4 linked regions of the Homo sapiens genome follow. The protein of the gene in region 2 interacts with the protein of the main gene of each other region in a biochemical or structural test. Each region holds a gene or a part of one and is shown on either strand. Other genes may lie near its edges.

The links.
Region 1: the proteins of PTPRC (region 2) and FYN form a complex in vitro, tested with the Homo sapiens proteins (one study listed by BioGRID).
Region 3: the proteins of PTPRC (region 2) and ITGAL form a complex in vitro, tested with the Homo sapiens proteins (one study listed by BioGRID).
Region 4: of the proteins of PTPRC (region 2) and CSK, one has a biochemical effect on the other in vitro, tested with the Homo sapiens proteins (2 studies listed by IntAct).

The regions. Positions count from the first base shown.
Region 1 is NC_000006.12:111,702,437-111,709,470, forward strand, and holds part of FYN (tyrosine-protein kinase Fyn), read right to left. Parts: intron 6,621-7,034; exon of another isoform or gene 6,570-6,620; coding exon of another isoform or gene 6,511-6,569; intron 5,585-6,510; coding exon 5,486-5,584; intron 1,667-5,485; coding exon 1,563-1,666; intron 599-1,562; coding exon 449-598; intron 1-448. UniProt on the Homo sapiens protein: Non-receptor tyrosine-protein kinase that plays a role in many biological processes including regulation of cell growth and survival, cell adhesion, integrin-mediated signaling, cytoskeletal remodeling, cell motility, immune response and axon guidance.
Region 2 is NC_000001.11:198,754,040-198,758,010, forward strand, and holds the end of PTPRC (receptor-type tyrosine-protein phosphatase C isoform 1 precursor), read left to right. Parts: intron 1-229; coding exon 230-365; intron 366-1,866; coding exon 1,867-2,142; 3' UTR 2,143-3,437; downstream 3,438-3,971. UniProt on the Homo sapiens protein: Protein tyrosine-protein phosphatase required for T-cell activation through the antigen receptor. Acts as a positive regulator of T-cell coactivation upon binding to DPP4.
Region 3 is NC_000016.10:30,482,730-30,489,763, reverse strand, and holds part of ITGAL (integrin alpha-L isoform a precursor), read right to left. Parts: intron 6,627-7,034; exon of another isoform or gene 6,570-6,626; intron 5,938-6,569; coding exon 5,805-5,937; intron 5,652-5,804; coding exon 5,501-5,651; intron 870-5,500; exon of another isoform or gene 798-869; coding exon of another isoform or gene 776-797; intron 683-775; coding exon 609-682; intron 511-608; coding exon 378-510; intron 1-377.
Region 4 is NC_000015.10:74,792,072-74,799,105, forward strand, and holds part of CSK (tyrosine-protein kinase CSK), read left to right. Parts: intron 1-974; exon of another isoform or gene 975-1,177; intron 1,178-6,140; exon of another isoform or gene 6,141-6,161; 5' UTR 6,162-6,226; coding exon 6,227-6,241; intron 6,242-6,543; coding exon 6,544-6,657; intron 6,658-6,754; coding exon 6,755-6,867; intron 6,868-7,034. UniProt on the Homo sapiens protein: Non-receptor tyrosine-protein kinase that plays an important role in the regulation of cell growth, differentiation, migration and immune response.

The sequences.
Region 1 (7,034 bases), on a different chromosome or scaffold from region 2:
GGCTTGCATGAGAATGAAATGTACGTGCAGCTATTCCTGCAACAGTGCTGAGGGTAAAGTGATAGTGGAAACACAATATTCCTTGTAGGAGTCCCCATGTAAGCGCCCTCCGAGAGACTGCTTTCTCACATGCAACGCGGGGAATGGGAAAAGACAACTTGAAGATGAAAAAACAAACAACTTTTAAAATTTAACCTATTGCTTTCTACTTGGGAAACAAAAATATTATAGAATCTTCGGACAAACATGTGGAACTAATAATAACAACAGTAGAACAATAGCAATAGAACCTATACAGCCAAGCCCTACCATTAAGGGCTGGCAAAGAAAACATACTCTATAAGTGATTTTGTACATATTAGTTTTACCCCTTTCCACTTTCCTGCTCTGGGCCTATCCACTCCCTCCAGCATCCAAATGGTTAGTAGGTAGTTAGAATTAAGGTTACCTGAGTAATGTTGTACAAGCTGCTGAAGTGTTTCAAACTGGGCCCGGGTGGTAATGTAGTATCCACCATTGTCAAGTTTGCGAATTTTATAATGTTTGACATGGTCTCCTTTCATATCATCCCAATCACGGATAGAAAGTGAATAGGCACCTGGTAAACGTGGAAAGCATTAGCAGCTCCAATCATTTAGAGTATCAGCTTGCTTTTTAGGCCTCATTTTCTTGACTCTGATTAATAATTACCAAGGATGCACACACACATGTACACACACACAGCATCTCCACTCAGTAACAGGAAGAAGATGCTTCTTGATGTTCTGCAAATGTCAGAATATATTAGCAATAAAATGATTCTGCCCTTGAGACTGAAAGCTTCCTGGACATTTTTCTTAAACACACTGTTCGGTACCCCTTGTTGCATAATACAGCGTAGACTCAATTCCAACACTCCTTTCCCCCAAGGGTAAAGAAGGACCACGATGAATGGCTGAGCTTGCTTCCCTTGTCTTCTCTACCCAGGGGCATACTGGGAGGTAGCAGCAGCATGTGCAAAAGAAATCTAAGGCTTGTTTCTCTAGAAGTGAGCTTCAAGCTTCTGCTTTACAACACTTTTTACAGGAATGGATAATCTGGCAAATTAAGCTAGAGGCCACTACTCTTTTCTTCCTTGACCTGTCTCCTCTTGTGGGTTGTAAGGAGTTGTTAAATAATGAAAAGTCCAACAGTTGGAGGAAGAGAAGTGAAGTCCTCAGTTATTTAAAAAACAAAAGGAAAGCAAAAACAACCTGTATGACTGGCACCTGAGGAACTAAGATTTCAGAAAATCAAAATTCTAAAGGACTTCTGAAAATTCTACGATCTTGTGTGCCTGGAGCAGTGTAGCTGCATCCAGCCCGTTTCAGGAGGAAGGTCTTGATTTGGGGCCTCTGTAGTTCTTTTGGTGCTGTCTGCAGTTTTAGAGCCTGGAGGGAAGACTGAAAACAGGACTCCACTCACAAGGCAGGGAGGGTATGTGCCATTTTAAAATCCTTGTACATTAGAGATAAGCCTTTCATCCCCTCTGACTAATCCACAGATTTGAATGACAAGCCAACTTCTTCAACTCGTTATCTTACCTTTGGTGGTTTCACTCTCGCGGATAAGAAAGGTACCTCTTGGGTTTCCAAAGGACAATAGCTGTCGCTCAGCATCTTTTCGGCCAAGTTTTCCAAAGTACCACCTTTAAATTAGATCAAGGAAAGAAAATATTTTGAAATAGTCATTTACAAAATGCAACAGCATAGGCTTTTTTTTTGCCCATGAATTCCCCTCTCCTCCAATTTAGTCCTTAACCTTTCCCTGGATGTATTTTTTTTCTAGCTTAATTCAGTTCCTTTTCAATCTATCCTGGATTCTATCCCTAATTCATCTCTTTCACTCTTTAAAAAAAATCAGATTTGAGTTGTGGGTTGTTTTCCTCCCCTCTAGACATGACCAGAACTGGTTTGTGTTAAAACTGCCACCTGTATGCAAAAAACCAGAAATCTAAGACCTTGATTTGAAATGGTTACTGCAGGAGACCCTTTCCACACTTATCTAAAAGACTCTAGTCTGGGCATGGTGGCTCATACCTGTAATCCCAGCACTTTGGGAGGCCGAGGTGGGCAGATCACCTGAGGTCAGGAGTTTGAGATCAGCCTGGCCAACATGGTGAAACCCCAGCTCTACTAAAAATACAAAAATTAGCTTGGTGTGGTGGTGGGCACCTGTAATCCCAGGTACTCGGGAGGCTGAGGCAGGAGAATCACTTGAACCTGGGAGGCCCAGGCTGCAGTGAGCTGAGATTGTGCCATAGTATTCCAGCCTGGGTGACAGAGCAAAGCCGTGTCTCAAAACAAAACAAAACAAAAAAAACAAACGCCAGGCATGGTGGCTCATGCCTGTAATCCTAGCACTTTGGGAGGCCAAGGTGGGTGGATCATGAAGTCAGGAGATGGAGACAATGCTGGCTATCATGGTGAAACCCCATCTCCACTAAAAATACAAAAAATTAGCTGGGTGTGGTGGCATGCACCTGTAATCCCAGCTACTCAGGAGGCTGAGGCAGGAGAATTGCTTGAATCTGGAAGGTGGAGGTTGCAGTGAGCCAGGATTGCGCCACTGCACTCCAGCCTGGGCAACAGAGCGAGACTCTGTCTCATAACAAAAAATAAACAAAAAAACAAAACTCTTGAATCTCTTGATATCTAAGCATTATTGTAACTGCTGGGAAATAACAAAACACAGTCTTAATGTATATGAAGATAATCAAGCATTAAAAAAAGTCAGATTAGATAGATATGATATGAATAAAGGAATAGTATTTTCAATAACTTCCTCCCTATAAGAATTCTGAGAAAAACGCCCATGAGTACTTACTTGTATTTTGTTTTCCTCCCCTAGGTGTGTGAGGACTTGGATAAGTAAAGGCATTTATTTACCAAGCACCTGGATTGTGATCTGTGTTCATCATCTTCTTCTTCTTTTTTTTTTTTTTTTCTTGAGACAGGGTCTCACTCTGTCACCCAGGCTGGAGTGCAGTGGCATAATCATAGCTCACTGCAGCCTTGACCTCTCCAGGCTCAAGCAATCTTCCTACCTCAGCCTCCTGGGACTAAAGGTGCACATCACCACACCTGCTAACTAAAAAAATTTTTTTTGTAGAGGCTAAGAGTGGTGGCTCATGATTGTAATTCCAGCACTTTGGGAGGCTGAGGCAGGCAGATCACCTGAGGTCTGGAGTTCGAGGCCACCCTGGCCAACATGGTGAAATCCCAACTCTACTGAAAATACAAAAATTAGCTGGGCATGGTGGCATGTGCCTGTAATCTCAGCTATTCGGGAGGCTGGGGCACGAGAATTGCTTGAACCAGGGATGTGGAGGTTGCAGTGAGCTGAGACAGGGCCACTGCACTCTAGCCTGGGGACAGAGTGAGACTGTCTCCCTATGTTGCCCAGCATGGTCTCAAACTCCTGGGCTCAAGTGATCCTCTCGCCCTGGCCTCCCAAGTGCTGGGATTACAGGAGGGAGCCATCACGGTGGACCCTGTACATCTTTTCTTTGGCACAACTGTAAGAACTGGTTACTGTACACCTTTGAGATCTGTGCCCAGTCAAAAAGCATGCCCTTAAAATGACTTGGTGTTGCAGATATTTCAATATATTATCCCTGAAGAAACTAATGATACTCTGTGCCACTTTAGGAGGCATCACATTAAGTCACCTCAAGACTTTTGTTATTTGCCTTATATCCTCCCCCTGCACTTTCAAGCCTTAACCAAGCCTGGCAATTAGTTACTATTTCAGCACTAGGTGCTGAATGAGCAGCAGGTGCCCCCAAAACCCAAGGGAGAATGCTGGAGCATTCAATTGGAATCTGTGTGTGGGAACCATTTTTAGAATATTTAACTGTGAAAGAATCCAGATTCTAAAATGAAATTTCAATTCATTATGCTTGAATATAGGTATCATGAGTTCACTGTCAAATTCTTTTGTGAATTAAGTTTCACTGAAGAAAAGAGACATTGCGTATTAGCTCCTCAGTGACTTTTAGAAACACCAAAATGTGCAACAATTCTTAATCTAGCATTAGGTGGCGTAAAGACTAGTACGTCAATTATTTGTGAGAAATGGCTTTCTGGGTTTGTACCAATAACCCAATTAGAATGCCGTGTAAAACAGTGGTGAAAAAGGAATTGTTAGAACAATGGATTGCACCAAAACAATAGTATTTTAAGATAATGATAGTTAATTGCATATGTAAAACCGAAGGCATTATTTTAAAAAATAATATTCTTTAAAAACAAAATATTTAAAAAGTTGACCATTATAAAAATAACTTAAATATATAGCTGACAAATTCCCAGTTAAATCAGGGTAATGCTACATTTTGGTGGTACTTTTTATTCTGAAAGAACACAAAGATGTTTGCAAATCTGCCCTAAAATACAAATTAAATACAAATACCTTGATTCACTGATGACGAAACACAGTCACTAGGAGAAAGAAACAACTAAGAACCACTGAGTATTTGAGAGTGGGAAACAAAACAGATCCTCTTAGAGGAAATACAAAGGAATTAAAGAATAGAACAATCCAACTGGGGATTTGGCTAGGGTGTGGAGTCTAATCCCTCTTGCACTACTTAAACAAATCCATGGTGAAATTAAATAGCAGAGCCAAAGGTTGGGCTTGGTGACTGACTTTTCTCAACTTCCTTTTTAGAGAGGCAAGACCCAAGGTGTCAGGAGGAGGCCAAGTTCCTGCATTTGGGAAATCATGGCTCCATCTCTCCTTCCCTCAGGGCTGGCAAACAGCCACTGGCAGTTCTTCCCCTTGGGAGTGCCTGTTAATCCTCATGGGTCAGAAGAAGGGAGAAAGGTTATCCCTTTTAGATCCCTTCAGCCTACTGAACACCTTCCTAAACTGCTACCAGTTGAATAGTTGGGCCAAATAACTGCTCGTCACTGTTTACTACCAAAGAAGCCAACTGAGGTTCCAAATCACTGTAGTATTTCCCAAGTTGGGGGGACACACTGTATGTGAGTCACTTTTACCGGGCATAGAAGGTGTCTTTTCAGCACTCTTTTAATATTTCTGATCACACTTAGGAGAAAAATCTTAGTTTAATCTGTGGCAATTACTTGCTACTCTCCCCTCTCTTCCCAACAGAGGGAGTGGACTGCGGGCTTAGAAACTTGGGTTGGCAATAATATATGCTCTAGCTAGCATTTCATATTTTTATGGCTACTTTTAATCTATGACAAGTTTTACTGGCTTTTCATTTAGGGTATTGATAGAAAGTTTTCTTTCAAAATAAGTGAGCAGGCTTCAAGAGAAACATTAAGTTAATAATAGTGCAAGTATTACACAGGGTAAAAACCGGGGCAGAAAGCCTGAAAAACTCAGCCTTAATCACTGCTGTGAATTTCTTCTCCCTCCTGCCCAATGCTGATGGCATTTTATTGCGGCAATCAACTTTTAAAATCAAGTAGTTAAGTGAAAACAAAATGAAACATACTCTTCTGCCTGGATAGAGTCAACTGGAGCCACATAATTGCTGGGAATGTAACCTGTCTCTCCAGTTGTCAAGGAGCGGGCTTCCCACCAATCTCCTTCCCTGTAAATAAAAAAGAAAAGTAAATATGTTGACCATTTCAACAGCTTGCAGTTAGAGACTCACTGTGGTCTGAAGTGTATAACTGTCACCTAATCATCCTGCCACCCGATTTCTCCAACCTATTCCTTTACTCTGAACTCCAACATAGTCCCCCTGTGAAGGTCAGAAGGTTCCAGTTCGAGTCAGCCATGAGATGAACCCACAGTTGTCTCTTGCCTTATTTGTGAATTAAGAATGTGGAATCCTGGCCATGAGAAGTCTCTCTTGGTAGGGGGCATTTTGCTTGGTTAGTGTCCTTAACTTGGATGGATGGAAAAGGAATCCAGCCTCAGCCTAATTAAGCAGAACATGTTAGCTGCAGATCATCTGGGAAGGGAAGCTTTTTAGGAGGTCTGAGGTCAATATGAGCTGCACAGTACTGCTTCCCTATTGTAAGCACCCCTCTCTTTCAAGTTCAAATCATGACATTAGAAATGTTAACATCTTAACATTGGGAGGTTAGGAGGTCTGATGAGGGATGAAGGCATGCTCTAAACACGTGCCTGGCTTGCTCTCAAAAAGATGGGGAGACACCTCTCTGCAGGTAGAATGATGCTACAGTAGGATCACCTTCCCCAGGCATTTTCAGTCTGAAGTGATTCCATCAAATGTCCAGAGCACTGGCCTGAGGCTCATGGGCAAGGGGTGAGGATGGGAATGGCTGCGTGTGCTCGCACAGGTGAAGCACAGAAACTCGGCAAGGGAGTGAGATTTTTAGTCACGCCACTTTGTACTGCCTTAGGCTCCATGCCACAGCACAGCAGTGTGGTATCAATCTGGGGAGCTCTCAGAGGAGGTGAAAGGGGATCTTGTAGCTACTCTCATCTTAAAGCCAGTGAGTACATTAAGCAGTTCAAATTCATCTGCTTAGATTCAAACAGGGCTACCTGTGATGAAGAGCAGGAATGGAGTGTGTACCTCTTCCCATTAACATCGGGGAGGCCATGGATGTGGCGCTGCGGCTCTGACATCCACTGAGTATCTGCAGAACCTTCCACCAGCCTGCAGTCAACGACATGATTGCCCTCAAGCAAATCAGACCTCCCAGCAAATCTGATCTCCTGGGGCTCAGGACCTTCTTTTCCTCCTTTTTTGGTCCTTGGAGGCAGCAAGCAAAACTTCAGGCATTTTAAAAAAAAATCGTTCTTTTGGCTGAGTTCTGTGTCAAAGCTTTCAGCCAGGGGAAAAAAAAAATGTGTTAGCTTCTGGCCATGGTAAAGATGCTCCCCAGACAGATTTAATCAGGTAGAGAATAATCAGCCTCCACATTAAACTCAAGCATTACTCCAGAGGCCGCTCTCTAAAGCTGGACTCTCTGAGCAAGGTGAGCAGTGAGCAACGCCTCCAGATAGGATTTAATAGAGCAACAGAACAAAGGTGACCAGCCAGCATGTGCTGGGGGTGCTGCTGT
Region 2 (3,971 bases):
AGTCGAAGACAAATAAGTTTTCAATTCCAGGATTATCACACTCTTAAATTGAAAAATTTGCCTAAAAATGCATTTAGCGTAAATAATTTGGTTCTTGAAAGAGGTTGGAATAAGATAATTATGATAAACATGAAGCAAAAAATATATTCTCTCTCTTCCTGTTTTTATTCTAATATCACCCTTTTTGGTGAGAAGTAGGATTATTTTCTATCTTTTCTTTCTTTTATAGGGATGGATCTCAGCAAACGGGAATATTTTGTGCTTTGTTAAATCTCTTAGAAAGTGCGGAAACAGAAGAGGTAGTGGATATTTTTCAAGTGGTAAAAGCTCTACGCAAAGCTAGGCCAGGCATGGTTTCCACATTCGTAAGTATCCTTCACCATTGCTTTTAACATGCTCGGAATTTTTTTTTTCTTTTTGACGGTTTCCTTTTTTCTTTTCTCCTCTCCTTTCCTCTCGTTTGTTCTTTTTTCCCCTTTCCTTTTCTCTTCTCTATTTTCTTTCCTATTCTTTTAGCTTTTCTACTTTTACATGATAATTCACATTAAATTATTATAAGTCTAAATAAGAGCCTAAAGTTTACTAGCACTTTGTTGTGACAGTTCATGAAGAGCCTTTCCCTAAATGCTCATGAATTTCTTAATTTTCTTTCCTTCACTCCTGTATCGATTTGTGTTGTGTAACAAACCACCCCCAAATTTGGGAGCCTAAACAAATAACATTTATTATGGTTCAGTAGTCTAATGATATGCTGGAATGTTCTGCTGGTGCCCTCAGGCTCAGGCAATAGAGACCAGGCTGACTCATGTGTCTGCCTTCAGCTGATGTGTGCCCTACAGTTTGGCTGGTCTAAAGTGACCTACACTGCCAGTAGGCTGGCATGTGGCTGCCATTTAGCTATGGCAACAACAGTGAGTGGGCCACATGTCCCTCCTCATCCAGAAGACTAGCCCAGGCCTATTCACATTAAAGCAGCAAGTTCCACAAGGGAAAGAAGACTTGTGTGAGACCACTTGAGGCCCAGGCTTAAAAGTGACACACATGTCTTCTTCTGTATGTTATTAGCCAAATAAATAAGTCATAAAGCCTGCCCAGATTCAAGGGGTAGGGAAATAGACTCCACTTCTTGAGAGGGCCTGCAAATTCACATTGCAAAGAAATGTGGATACAGGAAGGAAAATAAGTTTTATATTCTTGTAATCGATCTATCGTGTATACCCTCTATGTGGTAGTAACTGTAGATGGTCATCTGGGAATTAATCCTTATTCACAGTGTAAACTTAATTACTCACTAAAATATATAAAGCTTTTAATCATGTATGATATTGAGATTTCATATCTTGGTACTTAAAAATGTATCAAATGCTTGCTATGTGCTCTTGCTATAAAGAGCTAATTGGTATGAGGGAAAGCCAGGTATTTACTAATCAATGTAGTGAGTAAAATGACAGAAAAATTATAAGAAGAACATGAATGAGGGCATTTAATTTAAACTTTAGGAATCAAGAAACGCTTCTCGAAGCAGTGATTCCTGCCCTGATTCTTAAATAATGTGTAGGCATTAGACAGGAGGATAAGTACAAAACGTGGCATCATGAGCAAAGGCATGGAAATGGCCCATGAGCGGAGTGAACACTGGTTTGGGGTTGCTCCAAGGTAAAGTTCAAAAAGTATCCTGCAGTCAACCCTTTAGCACCATAAAGAAACTAAATTATTTAGATGTTTTTATGAGAACATATCAAAAAGTACTTTTCTGTCATCCAATACTTCCACAAATAAATCATTAGTTCTTGCTAATCTTCATCTGGCATAAAAATAATGACATCAACTTTCTTCATGTAATTTCCCACTTAATTCCTTTACTAGGAGCAATATCAATTCCTATATGACGTCATTGCCAGCACCTACCCTGCTCAGAATGGACAAGTAAAGAAAAACAACCATCAAGAAGATAAAATTGAATTTGATAATGAAGTGGACAAAGTAAAGCAGGATGCTAATTGTGTTAATCCACTTGGTGCCCCAGAAAAGCTCCCTGAAGCAAAGGAACAGGCTGAAGGTTCTGAACCCACGAGTGGCACTGAGGGGCCAGAACATTCTGTCAATGGTCCTGCAAGTCCAGCTTTAAATCAAGGTTCATAGGAAAAGACATAAATGAGGAAACTCCAAACCTCCTGTTAGCTGTTATTTCTATTTTTGTAGAAGTAGGAAGTGAAAATAGGTATACAGTGGATTAATTAAATGCAGCGAACCAATATTTGTAGAAGGGTTATATTTTACTACTGTGGAAAAATATTTAAGATAGTTTTGCCAGAACAGTTTGTACAGACGTATGCTTATTTTAAAATTTTATCTCTTATTCAGTAAAAAACAACTTCTTTGTAATCGTTATGTGTGTATATGTATGTGTGTATGGGTGTGTGTTTGTGTGAGAGACAGAGAAAGAGAGAGAATTCTTTCAAGTGAATCTAAAAGCTTTTGCTTTTCCTTTGTTTTTATGAAGAAAAAATACATTTTATATTAGAAGTGTTAACTTAGCTTGAAGGATCTGTTTTTAAAAATCATAAACTGTGTGCAGACTCAATAAAATCATGTACATTTCTGAAATGACCTCAAGATGTCCTCCTTGTTCTACTCATATATATCTATCTTATATAGTTTACTATTTTACTTCTAGAGATAGTACATAAAGGTGGTATGTGTGTGTATGCTACTACAAAAAAGTTGTTAACTAAATTAACATTGGGAAATCTTATATTCCATATATTAGCATTTAGTCCAATGTCTTTTTAAGCTTATTTAATTAAAAAATTTCCAGTGAGCTTATCATGCTGTCTTTACATGGGGTTTTCAATTTTGCATGCTCGATTATTCCCTGTACAATATTTAAAATTTATTGCTTGATACTTTTGACAACAAATTAGGTTTTGTACAATTGAACTTAAATAAATGTCATTAAAATAAATAAATGCAATATGTATTAATATTCATTGTATAAAAATAGAAGAATACAAACATATTTGTTAAATATTTACATATGAAATTTAATATAGCTATTTTTATGGAATTTTTCATTGATATGAAAAATATGATATTGCATATGCATAGTTCCCATGTTAAATCCCATTCATAACTTTCATTAAAGCATTTACTTTGAATTTCTCCAATGCTTAGAATGTTTTTACCAGGAATGGATGTCGCTAATCATAATAAAATTCAACCATTATTTTTTTCTTGTTTATAATACATTGTGTTATATGTTCAAATATGAAATGTGTATGCACCTATTGAAATATGTTTAATGCATTTATTAACATTTGCAGGACACTTTTACAGGCCCCAATTATCCAATAGTCTAATAATTGTTTAAGATCTAGAAAAAAAAAATCAAGAATAGTGGTATTTTTCATGAAGTAATAAAAACTCGTTTTGGTGAATTCTGTAATAGCTTATCATGAAGGTCAAACACAACCTTTAGATTGGTTTGGTTTTCTATATCTTTACTCTTTTGTCTGATTTTATATGTCTTAACTATACAGCACCGATTATTGTCCATTCAACTCACATTTATTTTGTGTCCCTACTTCTAATTATTTCACTATTGTAACATATAAAATTAACAATTAACCCTTATAGTAGTATATAGATCCTTGTGCTTATTTAACAGATGAAAAGAAGTAAATTTTACAATGAAGCCACAGTTTCTAATTTATATTAAGGTTACTTATTACATCTTTACTTATTAATGAGAAAAGGGGATTAGAATCACCAATTATGGGCACAAAAAATAAAGTTTGCTTTCACTTACCTCTTCAGTCACTCAAACTATTATGCATTCTTTTCTTTTATTGAAACTTGATCAGTTGCCATTTTCTAGATAATGTAGTTAAAATTTGCAGTTCTCATGTTCAATAGAACATTATGATGTATGCCTACTTTATCTGTTAATTGCTTCAAAATACAAATAGCAG
Region 3 (7,034 bases), on a different chromosome or scaffold from region 2:
GGGTTTCACCATGTTGGCCATGCTGGTCTTGAACTCTTGACTTCAGGTGATCCACCTGCCTCAGCCTCCCAAACTGCTGGGATTACAGGCATGAGCCACTAGGACCAGCTACAAGGCATATTCACAGGCAAGTTGTTTACTATCTCTAGGAATTTGCCTACCCTGGGAGAGGTAGTCTTTTCAGGATTAGCACGGCCCCAAGATGTCAAAGCATCAGAAAATACAGACAATAAATTATGAATGTTATAGCCATATTTAAACTCTGACTTTGTTCATGCTGGTTGCTTAACTGCTTTCATTATTGTTTTGGAAGCCAGGCTGAGCGACCATCTGACCTCAACAACCAGAAGATCCCAGCAGAAAAGAGAAGTACTCACCCAAATAGCCTGCTCTCACTTCTGGTGTCAATGGTTCATTCCCAATAAATGTGTCATCCTGCAGGTCTGCCTTCAGGTCAAGAAAGCCCCCAGCCCAGTCCTTGGCTCCTACTGCCCCCACGACTGCATGGCCCTGCCCAGGGAAGGAGATGAGCGGGTCAGCTACCCACCGACCCACCCCCCAGAGCCAACTGCACTCCCTGCAGCCCATTGCTCCAGCCCAGCACGCACCCTGCTGAGGTCAGCACTGATGCCGCTGGAGGACAGCTCCATGTTGAAGGAAGTCAGGTCCTGTTTGCTTGTGCCTGGGGAACAAAGCAGAGAACAGGTGAGACCCAACAGCAGTAAATGCAGTGAAAAAAATTCATGGCAGGACGGGGAAGAAGTGAGGTATTTACTTCTGGGTAAGGTAGAAGGCATGCATGTGAGGGTCAGGCAGACCCAGGAAGTGGCTTAATGCGGAGTTGGCTTTTACCCTGGGAGTCCCAGATTTGTTTGTTTTTTGTTGTTGAAACAAGGTCTTGCTCTGTTGCCCAGGTTGGAGTGCAGTGGCGCAATCACAGCTCACTGCAGCCTCAACCACCCAAGCTCAAGCAACCCTCCGGGCTTAGCCTCCTGGATAGTGGGGACTATAGGCACACACCATCACACCTGGCTAATTTTTTTTTTTTTTTTTTTTTTTTTGAGATGGAGTCTCTCTCTGTCACCGAGGCTGGAGTGCGGTAGTGCAATCTCAGCTCACCACAGCCTCTGCCTCCTGGGTTCAAGCGATTCTCCTGCCTCAGCCTCCCGAGTAGCTGGGATTATAGGTGCACCACCATGCCCAGCTAATTTTTGTATTTTTAGTAGAGATGGGGTTTCACCATGTTGGCCAGCCTGGTCTCGAACTCAGGTGATCCACCCGCCTCGGCCTCCCAATGTGTTGGGACAATGACAGGTGTGAGCCACTGTGCCCAGCCTCCAGATTTGAATATCCAATTACTCATCTCCATGTGTCCAAGACTCAGCTCTTGGTTTCTGCTCTGACTCAGGCTTCTCACTTCAATGAATGGCACCCCCACTCACCTAATGAACCATGCTAAGAAACCAAATCCACCTGGAGTCTTCTCTATACTCCATCTCATCTCCAACACATCACCAAATCATGATACTCCTGCCTTTGAAATACACCCTTTTTCTTTTTTTTTTTTTTGAGACAGGGTCTTGCTGTGTTGCCCAGGCTGGAGTGCAGTGGTGTGATCATAGCTCACTACAGTCTCAAACTCCTAGGCTGAAGAGATCCTCCTGCCTCAGCATCCCAAGTAGCTGGGACTACTGGTATGCACCACCGTGCCTGGCTTATATAGCTTCTCCTTAAGAACTCTTCACTGGCTGTGCGTGGTGGCTCATGCCTGTAATCCCAGCACTTTGGGAGGCCAAGGCAAGCAGATTACCTGAGGTCAGGAGTTTGAGACCAGCCTGACCAGCATGGTGAAACCCTATCTCTACTAAAAGTACAAAAATTAGCTAGGCATGGTGGGACATGCCTGTAATCCCAGCTACTTGGGAGGCTGAGGCAGGAGAATTGCTCGAGGCTGGGAGGCTCAAAAACAACTGGAGGTTGCAGTGAGCCAAGATCGCACCACTGCTCTCCAGCCTGGCTGACACAGTGAAACTCTGTCTTGAAAAAAAAAAAAGCCAGGCACAGTGGCTCACACCTGTAATCCTAGCACTTTGGGAGGCCAAGGCGGGCAGATTACCTGAGGTTAGGAGTTCAAGACCAGCCTGGCCAATATGGTGAAACCCCGTCTCTACTAAAAATACAAAAAATTTATCTGGGTGTGGTGGCAGGCGCCTGTACTACTAGCTACTTGGGAGGCTGAGGCAGGAGAATCGCTTGAACCGAGGAGGCTGAGGTTGCAGTGAGCCAAGATCACACCACTGCACTCCAGCCTGGTGACAGAGCAAGACTGTCTCAAAAAACAAAACAAAACAAAACAAAAAACCTCTTCATGGGCTGGGCACAGTGGCTCACGCCTGTAATCCCAACACTTTGTGAGGCTGAGGCAGAAGACTTGCTTGAGCCCAGGAGTTAAAGATCAGGCTGGGCAATATAGTAGAAACTCTGTCTCGGCCGGGCGTAGTGGCTCATGCCTGTAATCCCAGCACTATGTGAGGCTGAAGCAGGAAGATTGCTTGAGCCCAGGAGTTCAAGACCTGCTTAGGCAATATAGTAGAAACTCTTTTTTTTTTTTTTTTTTTTTTGAGACGGAGTCTCACTCTGTCGCCCAGGCTGGAGGGCGGTGGCACAATCTTGGCTCACTGTGAACTCCACCTCCAGGATTCACGCCATTCTCCTGCCTCAGCCTCCCGAGTAGCTGGGACTACAGGCGCCCGCCACCACGCCTGGCTAAGAAACTCTTGTCTCTACAAAAAATTTAAAAATTAGCCAGGTGTGGTGGTGTGTATCTGTAGTCCCAGCTACTCAGGAGGTCAAGGTGGGAGGACTGCTTGAGCCCAGGAGTTTGAGGCTGCAGTGAGCCGTGATCGCACTACTGCACTCCAGTCTGGGCAACAGAGTGAGTCCCTGTCTCAAAACAACAACAACAAAAAACTCCTTCATGATTTCTCATCGATCTTCACACTGAAATCCAAACTCTTTCTGAGGGCCTGGAAGACCCTTACCTCCCTGCCAACCTTCTCTCTCCCTTCCTCACTGCGCTTCGGTCACACTGAACTTTTTCCATTTTCCTGGCATGCCGAGCCCTTTCCCCGCCCCTGGGCTTGCACCTGTGCTTCTCTCTGCCCTCATTCCACCTTTCTCACATTGCTGTTTGAATCTCATCTTTCATATCTCAGCTTAAAAGCCAGTTGAGAGTGAGTTTTTTTTAAAAACTTTTTTTTAAAAAATCACTTTTCATTTTTATTAATTATTTAGACATGGCTTCTTGCTATGCTGCCCAGGCTGGACCATTGCTGCTGATTTTTTTTTTTTTTTTGAGACAGTTTTGCTCTTGTCACCCAGGCTGGAGTACAGTGTCACAATCTCAGCTCACTGCAACCTCTGCCTCCTGGGTTCAAGCGATTCTCCTACTTTAGCCTCCCAAGTAGCTGGGTGACCTCAAGTGATCCGCCTGCCTCAGCCTCCCAGAGTGTTGGGATGACAAGCGTGAGCCACCACGCTCAGCCCATTGCTTCTTTAACTGAACCGAACACCAAGGCTGTGTCCTAGCAAAGGAGACTTTCCTGTAGGAATCACATATCTTTCAGTCAAGTAAGCTTCCTGGGGAAATGCCCTCCATAACCAGTCCTCCATCTGGTGACCACAATATAAATCTTCTCTTATTCTAGGCCAGGAAAGAAGACTTGTGGGTTCTTCACACTGGCCCCTGCCAGCCTGCCCTTCTGAAGTAATGTGGAGCCTTGGATAAGTGACAGCAAGACAGTTGAGCAAGAAGGGGGAGGAATTACATTCACTCTGCGGGGCTCAGATCACACCAGCAAGACATAGGTCAGTCCTAGATCAACCTGAGCTCCAAGAGAAGATGGAATTTCAGAAAGAAATATCAGAGAGGGCCGGGTGCAGTGGCTCACGCCTGTAATCCTAGCACTTTAGGAGGCCGAGGTGGGCAGATTGCTTGGGGCCAGGAATTCGAGACCAGCCCAGGCAACATAGCGAGATCCCTGCCTCTACAAAAAATACAAAAAATACAAAAAAAAAAAAAAAAATTAGCCAGGTGTGGTATCACACACCTGTAGTCCCAGCTACGTGGGAGGATCACCTGAGCCTGGAAGGTCAAGGCTGCAGTGAGCTGTGATCATGCCACTGTACCCCAGCCTGGGTGACAGAGTGAGACCCTGTGAAAGAAAAGCAAAAAAGAAAAGAGGCTGGGCGCAGTGGCTCACGCCTGTAATCCCAGCACTTTGGGAGGCCAAGGCGGGCAGGTCACGAGGTCAGATCGAGATCATCCTGGCTAACACGATGAAACCCTGTCTCTACTAAAAATACAAAAATTAGCCAGGCGTGGTGGCTGGCGCCTGTAGTCCCAGCTGCTCGGGAGGCTGAGGCAGGAGAATGGCGTGAGCCTGGGAAGTGGAGCTTGCAGTGAGCAGAGACTGCGCCACTGCACTCCAGCCTGGGCAACAGAGCAAGACTCTGTCTCAAAAAAAAAAAGAAAAGAGAGAAGAGAAAAGAAGAGAAGAGGAGGGGAGAGGAAGGGGGGAGGAGAGGGGAGGAGAGGGGAGGGGAGGAGAGGGAAAGGGAAGGAAGGGAGGAAGGAAGGAAGGAGAGAAAGAAGGAAGAGAAAGAAAGATCACAGAGGCTGCTCTCAAATGGCCCTCTCCTAAATTCCTTCTAAAGGTCTGTTTTATTTAGGCAAGCCCTTGGCACAAGATCAGATATTCAGTAAGTGCTTATTATTCTTTGTGTTTCTAATAGGATGTCCCAGGGGAGGTTTTTTTTTGTTTTTTTGTTTTGTTTTGTTTTGTTTGAGACTGAGTCTTGCTGTGTTGCCCAGGCTGGAGTGCAATGGCACATCTCAGCTCACTACAACCTCCGCCTCCTGGGTTCAAGCGATTCTCCTGCCTCAGCCCCCTGAGTAGCTGGGATTACAGGCATGCACCACCAAGCCCAGCTAATTTTTGTATTTTTAGTAGAGACGGGGTTTCGCCATGTTGGCCAGGCTGGTCTCGAACTCCTGACCTCAGGTGATCTGCCCACCTCAGCCTCCCAAAGTGCTGGGATTACAGGTGTGAGCCACCGCGTCCGGCCATTTTTGTTTTTTGTTTTTTATTTTTTGAAATGGAGTCTTCCTCTGCCACCCAGGCTGGAGTGCAGTGTGGTGCGATCTTGGCTCACTGCAACCTCTGCCTCCTGAGTTCAAGCGATTCTTGCGCCTCAGCCTCCTGAGTAGTGGGATTACAGGCACCCACCACCACACCTGGCTATTTTTTGTATTTTTAGTATAGATGGGGTTTTGCCATGTTGCCCAGGCTGGTCTCAAACTCCTGAGCTCAATTGATCCACCTGCCTCGGCCTCCCAAAGTGCTGGGATTACAGGTGTGAGCCACCAAGCCCGGCCTGATGTCCCAGGGGAATTTCTTTATGCAGACTCCCGAGCCCTCTCCCAGGGCCTGCCACTCACCCTCAATGACATAGATCTTCTTCTGCAGCTCAGTGAATAGATCTTTCAGCTTCTCAAATGTGTCCAGAATTTTCACAAACTCGCTCGCGGGTTTTGATGCAAATTTGTGGAGGGTCTCCTGACTCTCCTTGGTCTGAAAATGCTTTCCAATCTGTGAGGGAGTGGAGAGTGAAGAGCTGAAATCCCCCAAACCTCAGTCCAGTTTGCTATTATTTTCACAAGAGTCTGGCCCCAGGGAGAAAGGGGCTTGGGGTTCAGAAAGAGGAGAGGGAAGATATGATGCAGGAAGCAGCAGGGGCCCTACCCCGATGATGTAGCGGATGATGTCTTTGGCCGCATCGATGTTGCCACTGTCAGTGGCCTCCCCATCCGTGATGATGATAAGCACTTTGGTGGCATCTGGCCGGGCCCCCAGCTCCTCCCGGAACACCTCTGTCCTGTGTCCAGGAAAGGAGGAGATGAGAGACTCCCCCAAACTAGGGCCTGAGGTCTCTTTCCCCACCTGCTCATCAAGTCACCTCCATGCTGGTTACGCAAAAGCCCTTCCTGGATCTCCCAGGCCGGGATTCCAAGCCTGCAGCAGTCACCTCTAAACCTCTTTGCTGCCACCCCTTTCCTTCTGGACCAGTGGTCCTCACACTGCATCCTGGGCAGTCCAGAGGGTGTCCCAGAGCCCATGGACAGGAGGAGGAGGTTTTGTGAGGAATGACTCTGGGCTTCCTACCCTCCATTGCAACCACATGGCCACCACTCTTTAATCAGCTACAGATATTGATCCAAGTGAGATTTCAATGTGGAAGAGAGGGTCCTACAGCTGAAGAAAACTGGGGAGTCACTCTTCCAGAGCAAGCTCTTCCAGCACCTCCTCTGCCTTCCCATAGTCCACAGGCTGCCTCCGGATCTCTACCATAGCAGTGAACCTAGTGAATTACCGTGACTCATTTCTCTGTCAATTTTCCCCCTAAACCATGAGTTCCTCAAGGAAAGGACCATGTTGGATTTGTTGCTGTATCTCTGGCTCCCAGCACAAAGGAGGCGGTTGTGCATGTGAGATGAAGGAGGGAGAACTAGTGTTACAGCTCTTTTAGAATTTGTCTAGCAGGCTTTCTGTTTTTTGCTAAAATCCTCCACCCTCAAAAAAATTAAAAAAATAAAATAAAGAAGGGAGAACTGAACACCAGATGGGCCAAGGCTAAAAATTTCTGCCCTGGGAGTTCCAGACCATTCTGGGCAACATAGCGAGACTCCAACTCTACAAAGATGAAAACAATTAGCCAGGCATGGTGGTGTGTGATTGTAGTCCCAACTACTCAGGAGGCTGAGACAGGAGGATCGCTTGAGCCCAGGAGTTTGAGGCTGCAGTGAGCTAGGATCACGTCACTGCGCTCCAGCCTGGGCAACAGAGTGAGACCTTGACTCTAAAAAAAAAAGAAAAAGAAAATTCCTGTTTTGCCCACAGCCTTCCTCTGAGCAAGTTGGGTTGGCCATAGCTCTTGCTGGAACAGCAGCAAGGTGTGAACCGTCTTACCCATGA
Region 4 (7,034 bases), on a different chromosome or scaffold from region 2:
CATCTAGAGATCTCCCCTGGCCCCATCACAGCTAGAGCTATGCTGTCCCCTTTCAGGGACATCTTGTAATTTATCCACCCAGCCCCCAACTGATGGACATAAAGGCTGTCTCCCCATCATCTCCTGCTACTACAGACAGCACTGCAGGGACTGTCCTGCTGTGTTTTTTTAAGGCATGGGTACTCCAGAAGCAGTTGCTCAGCTGCACCCCCAAGGTTGAGTGGAAGTCCCTCGGTAAAGGAGGAGGAGAGAGTGTGAAGGGAATGGCAAGGCGGGGAGGGAGACAGGGCACAGGTGTCCTGGCAACAGCAGATGGGAAACAGGTCTGGCTAAGGTACCAGAAGCCAACAAGTCCCAGAAAGGTCAAGTGACTTTCCCAAGGTCACACAGCAAGTTGATGGCAGAGCTGGGTACAGGACTCAGAGCATCTGACACCCAGGACGATGTTCCTGCACTGTTCCATAGAGTAGCCCGACTCTTAAGTTTAAATAACCCCAGGAAGGACCCCCTCTCTGTGCCTGACCCCCGCTGGGTTGTAGAGGCCTAAGTTTGCAGTAGCTCCTCCCAGCCACTCTGGCTGTCAGCCTCTGACCTGCAGTGGGAGGGTCTCACCTTCTGGAGATGTTTTAAGGAGGGGACCCCGGCCTAGGCACTAGCTGGGAAGCCACTGAGCCATCTTGTCTGCGGCCACTGACGTCAGTGCTTGGGCACAATGCCAGCCTGTTCCCGGGACCCCAGCACAAGGGCTACTGGGAGCCGGGTTTGGGGCAGGAAGTCAGCGTGAAGCACTGGTCCTGCCACATCCCAAGCCCCTTGTCCCCTAGCTCTGTGGGGGTGGGGTGACAGCTGCTATCGCTTTGGGGTTAACTATAGTCCCTTTGGGGTTAACTATAGTCCCATTGGTTATGGGACCTCAGTGTGATGTAGCCAGGCTGGATTCCCCCTTTTGTTTGTTCATTTATTCATTCATTCAGGGGTCTCATGACCCCACCAGGGAGGAGCCGTCCAAGAGAGTTAGCAGCTCCCACTTGCAAGATGTCTGTGGCAAGGCAGGCACTGTTCTGGTGCTGAGAGCTCAACTCCAGTCCTCACAGCAGCCCCCAGAGCCAAGGAGTATCACCAGTCCATTGCACAGATGGGGAAGCTGGGTTCTAGAGTCACAGCCAGCAGAGTAAAGGTGATGAGTTTAGCCCTCTTCCCTGTTTCCAGACCCTCTGAGGCCTTCAGAGCCCAGCTCCTTGAGGCAGCCCACCCCGACCGCTCCTAGGCTTACCCTTCCCTGAGCACCGCCCCTGTGCCCCTCATAGCTGCTTCTGCCTCCTCCCTCCTCCCTCCTCTCCCTTGCCCCTAGGCTAGTGTGGTCCCCATGGCAACTCCTGGGGCCTGTCCGGCAGGGAGGCACGGGGCTATGGGGAGGGCTGGCTCAGCAGCTCAGGAGTTTGACACCTGAGGGGGACAGAATGCTCACTCAAGGTGTGGCCCTAGGGACCCCCGCCTTGCCCCTGTGGGCCTCACTTGGGGTTCTCATCTGCAAAATGGGGATAATAATAGCTTCTCTGTCTCAGAGTTGTTAGAGGATGTGATGAGCCATAACGTGCCAAGGACAGGGCCTGGCACAGAATAAGTGCTCAGAAAACAGGGCCTGTTATTATTTTTATTATTATAATCAAGGCAGTGGGGAGGCGGCGGTGGCAGTAGCTGTAGGCCAGGAAGGGAGTGTTTGCAAACTGACAGCTGGAAGGGTGACTAACAGCGCAGCAGCCTCCGCGCCCCCCTGTGGTGGCAGGGAGTTTGGGGAGGAAGGGGGAGGCATGGGGATGTGGAATGCTAGCAGGGCCCCTATTCAGAAGGACCTAAAGGTTGGGGGCCCAGCCAGCCCTAGTGGGACCCTAATTCAAGCTCTGTCACCCCTAACTAGCTATGTGACTTCAGGCAAATTGTTCAACCAGTTGAGCCTCAGTTTCCGCTTCTGTGAAATGGGGGTAAGAGGGTTAGAAGAGCTCACAATCCTCCTTCCCTCCCCGCCACCCCCACCCCCACAGCTTACAGTCCACAGGAGGCAGGGGCAAGGGGTCCTCACCACCCCCACCCTCACAGCTTACAGTCCACAGGAGGCAGGGGCAAGGGGTCCCCGCCACCCCCACCCTCACAGCTTACAGTCCACAGGAGGCAGGGGCAAGGGGTCCCCGCCACCCCCACCCCCACAGCTTACAGTCCACAGGAGGCAGGGGTAAGGGGTCCCCGCCACCCCCACCCCCACAGCTTACAGTCCACAGGAGGCAGGGGCAAGGGGTCCCCGCCACCCCCACCCTCACAGCTTACAGTCCACAGGAGGCAGGGGCAAGGGATGGTTCCTGTACTTAGTGGTGACTGAGTCATGTGGATGGAGGCAGGTTTCAGGCTCATCCTCCTTGGGCCTCAGTGTCCCTGCCTAAACAGCAGGATTGATGGCCTGGCCTCTGGGGATAGAAAGGGCCCTGTATTCTGGGAGGAACGGAAGCTCTTTCATCCAGGGGATGGGGCAGGGGCGCACCAGACATTTCCAAGTTCAGGGTTTCATTCCAGCCCCTCCTCAGCCAGCTTGCAGGAGATACCTGTCCTCCCCTTCAGGGTAAGCAAGACTTAGAAGGGTTGAGTCACTCACCCCAAGTCGCACAGTCAACAGAGCCAGGTATTAAGCCCAGGCCTGACTATAGAGCCAGGTGTGCGGCCTGGAAGTGTTGGTTCTCCCTGGCCGTCTCCTCCCCAGCTCCTTCTGCTCTCCATGATCACATGCCCCCCTGCTGAGGCCCCATCGCCCTTGGAGTCAAACCCTGGTTCCTCACATTGGCAGTGGAAGTCCCCCTGCTGCCTGGCAGAGTTTATGCCAGGCCCACTTGAAACCATCCCCTACAGTGTCCCCTGAGCAGCGGTGCTCAAGGTGGACTCTGGAAGTGTGTGGGGTCCTAGAGCCCCAGATGGGCAGGGTCTGCCTTCCCGCTTCCCTCACCATCGGCTTCCACCTGGGCCAGTTTCTCATACTATGCCAGTCCCCTGCCTGACACCTTTGCTCAGACTGCTGCATCAACCTGGGGTGCCTTCCCTGGCCCGCCCTCTGCCTGTGTAAGCCCTGCAATCTTCAGGGCTCAGCCCCAGAGCTCCCTCCTCCAGGGAGCCTGTCTGAGCTCTGCAGTCCGTGCCTACTTCACACCCCCAGCACTTTGCACTAAAATGTCTTCTCCCGCGCCACTGCACTCCAGCCTGGGCAACAGAGCAAGACTCCGTCGCAATAATAACAATAATAATAAAATAAAATGTCTCCTTCCACTGGGGTAGGTAGCAATATTTGTGACTGTCAGCCTAGCCCCCAGACCTCATCCACTGTATCAAAGAGCCCAGCAAAGAGGCTCATGGAGGAGTTTCTCTTCTAACACACTGTGACCACGAAGATGCCACTGGCCCTTTCTCACCCTCAGTTTCCTCACCCGTAGAAAGGAAACAGTAGTTCCAGCCCCTCTGCTTCCTGAGACAGGTCCAAGGGGGCTCTGGGCTGGGATTACAAAGTATGTGTGTGCAGACGGGTGGGTTGCTGCTCTCAGGGAATGGGGTTGGCTAGGGTAGCTTTTTTGGGGAGTCAACTTTATTGAAGTAAATATACGGTTGACCCTTGAACAACACAGGGGTTGAGGGCATCAACCTCCTCCCTGCAGTCAAAAAATCATATATTAACTTTTGACTCCTCAAAAACTTAACTACTAATAGCCTATTGTTGTCAGAAAGCCTTGTAGATAAAGTTGATTGACACTCATTTTGTTTGTTATATATATTATATACTGTATTCTTACAATAAAGTAAGCTAGTGAAAATAAAATAAGAAAATCATATGGCCGGGTGCAGTGGCTCACACCTGTAATCTCAGCACATTGGGAGGCTGGGGCAGGCGGATCACTTGAGGCCAGGAGTTCAAGACCAGCATGGCCAATATGGTGAAACCCTGTATCTACTAAAAATACAAAAATTGGTCTGCTGTGTTGGCGCACGCCTATGATCCCAGCTACTCAGGTGGTCAAGGCATGAGAATCACTTGAACCTGGGAGGCGGAGGTAGTTGCAGTAAGCCGTGAGTCACCCCACCACTGCGTTCCAGCCTGGGCGACAGAGTCTTGCTGTCTCAAAAAAAAAAAGAAAGAAAATCATAAGGAAGAGGAAATATATCTACTATTCTTTAAGTCGAAGGGGATCATTATGAAGGTCTTCATCCTTCACATTGAGTAGGCTGAGGAGGAAGAGGAAGAGTTGGTCTTGCCGTCACAGAGGTGGCAGAGGTGGAGGCGGAGGAGGTGGAAAGGAAGGCAGAAAAGGCAGGCACACTCAGTGTAACTTACTGAAAAACATCCAGCCACGTGTGGTGGCGCATGCCTGTGGTAATCGCTACTTAGGAGGCTGAGGCAGGAGGATTGGCTGAACCCAGGGGTTTGAGGCTGCTGTGAGCTATGATCACGTCACTGCACTCCTGCCTGGGCAACAGAGTGAGACCCTTTCTCAAAAAAAAAAAAAAAAGAAAAGAAAAAGAAAAAATCCATGTGTAACTGGACCTGCGCAGTTCAGACCCGAGTTGTTCAAGTGTGCACTATACACCAAAAAGTGTGCCGATCGCAATGGTACAGCTCAGTGAATTGTCACAGAGTGGACCCACTTCATGATTGGGCTCAGACAGTCTGAAAACCAACCCCAGAGGTCCCCTTGCATTCCTTCCAGTCTCCCTGTCCCAAGAGCAGCTATCCTGACAGCATGGATTAGTTTGGCCAGATTTTGAACTTTATTCAAATGGAATTACATAATATGTACTTTCCTGTGTCTGGCTTCTTGGTTAACATTTTATTTATTTATTTATTTATTCATTCATTTAGAGGCAGGGTCTCACTCTGTCGCCCAGGCTGGAGTGCAGTGGTGTGACCTTGGCTCACTGTAGCCTTGACCTCCCCAGGCTCAAGCGATCCTCCCACCTCAGCCTCCTGAGTAGCTGGGAGTACAAGCACGCAGTACCACCCCCGGCTAATTTTTGTATCTTTAGTAGAGACCGGGTTTCGCCATGTTGCCGAGACTGGTCTTGAACTCCTCCTGGGTTTAAGCCATCTGTCTGCCTCAGCTTCCCAAAGTGCTGAGATTACAGGTGTGAGCCACTGTGCCTAGCCATCATTATGTTTTGAAATTTATCGGGATTGGCCAGGCACGGTGACTGGCACCTGTAATCCCAGCATTTTGGGAGGCCGAGGTGGGTGGATCACCTGAGGTCAGGAGTTCGAGACCAGCCTGGCCAACATGGTGAAACCCCATCTCTACTGAAAATACAAAAATTAGCTGGTTGTGGTGGTGCATGCCTGTAATCCCAGCTACTCAGGAGGTGGAGGTTGCAATGAGCCGAGATTGTGCTACTGCACTCCAGCCTGGGTGACAGAGCCAGACTCCATCTCAAAAAAAGAAAAGAAAAGAAATTCATCAGTGTTATTTAATGGTTGGAGTTTGTGTTGGAGTTTATTTAATGGTTGGTGTTTACTGCTGTACGTAGTCCCTTTTGTGAATATGCCACTGTTTATCCATTTTCCTCTGGATCGGCATCTGGGCAGCTCCCAGTTTGAGGTTTATTACAAAGCATGCCACTTGTAGCCCTCCTGTGCCTGTCTAGGCAGACACATGTCCTGTGTCCTCTCGGTGTGTACCTAGAAGTGGGGTTGGTATATGTTTAGAGATGCTACCTGGGCGGGATTTTGCAGGTGAAGGACCCAAGGACCCACAGAGCATAAGGGACTTTCTCAGATCACATAGCCCCTTCTCAGAGCTGCTCCGGGGCCCCTTTCCCCACAGAACAGTAGCTGGAACCAGGCCTGGGGCTGACGGTCAGGTGTCCATTGTCCCACTAGCCCCCTTTGCTCCTTTCTATCAGTCCTGGAAGGCCCCCTGTGGCCTTAGGGTTGGTGGCTCCCTCTGCCCCTGGGGGTCCTCAGCCCTCATGCTCCTCTACCCAGTACCGTCAGCCTGCCAGGACTGGAGAGAATGGCCCATGTGTCAAATCCCAGCGCAGGACACTCTTGGCACCTGTTCATGCCCAGTGAGGAGCCAGATCTCAGCAGTTGGGGGGCATTTCTTCACACCCCTCCTCAGTCTTCATGCTCTTCCCCACAGCTCTAATGGTACCAAGTGACAGGTTGGCTTTACTGTGACTCGGGGACGCCAGAGCTCCTGAGAAGATGTCAGCAATACAGGTACCACAGGGGTGAGGGTCTGGGACATGCAAGCATTCCCACCAGCCCCAGCGGGGTGCTTAGCAGAGGAGAGAGGATGCAGCTTAGATCAACCCACTCCCCTTTTTCCCAGCACTCAGTCAGGTACAGGCCTGGGGAAGTGGGGGAGTCTCAACAGGAAGGGACCCAGGGCTCGTTCTCCGGGCAGAGCACCTCACCCAGGCTCACAGAGGCCAGCTCAGAGGCTGTGACCACGAGGGTGCGCCAGCAGGTGGCTGGAGGGGGCCCAGGCTGCACCCGCCCACGTGTCACCTGCCTTGCAGGCCGCCTGGCCATCCGGTACAGAATGTATTGCCAAGTACAACTTCCACGGCACTGCCGAGCAGGACCTGCCCTTCTGCAAAGGAGACGTGCTCACCATTGTGGCCGTCACCAAGGTAATCAGGTGACGCCCACCCCACCATCCCACTGCTGGGCCTTCCCTCTGCAGGGGGAGGTGGGCCTGAGAGCATGTCTGGGCTGCCCTCTCCCCAGGACCCCAACTGGTACAAAGCCAAAAACAAGGTGGGCCGTGAGGGCATCATCCCAGCCAACTACGTCCAGAAGCGGGAGGGCGTGAAGGCGGGTACCAAACTCAGCCTCATGCCGTGAGTACCACGAGGAGGGGTTGGGGAGGGAAGGGGCCTTGGTCCTCCTGAAGGAGCATCAGGAGCAAGCAGGGAGGCCAGAGTGAGGGGCTTGGGTGTTGGGGAGGGCCTCAGGAGGAGGTGCAGGGTGCGGGTGCGGGACCTCACAGAGCAGGGCTGGGGGCAGA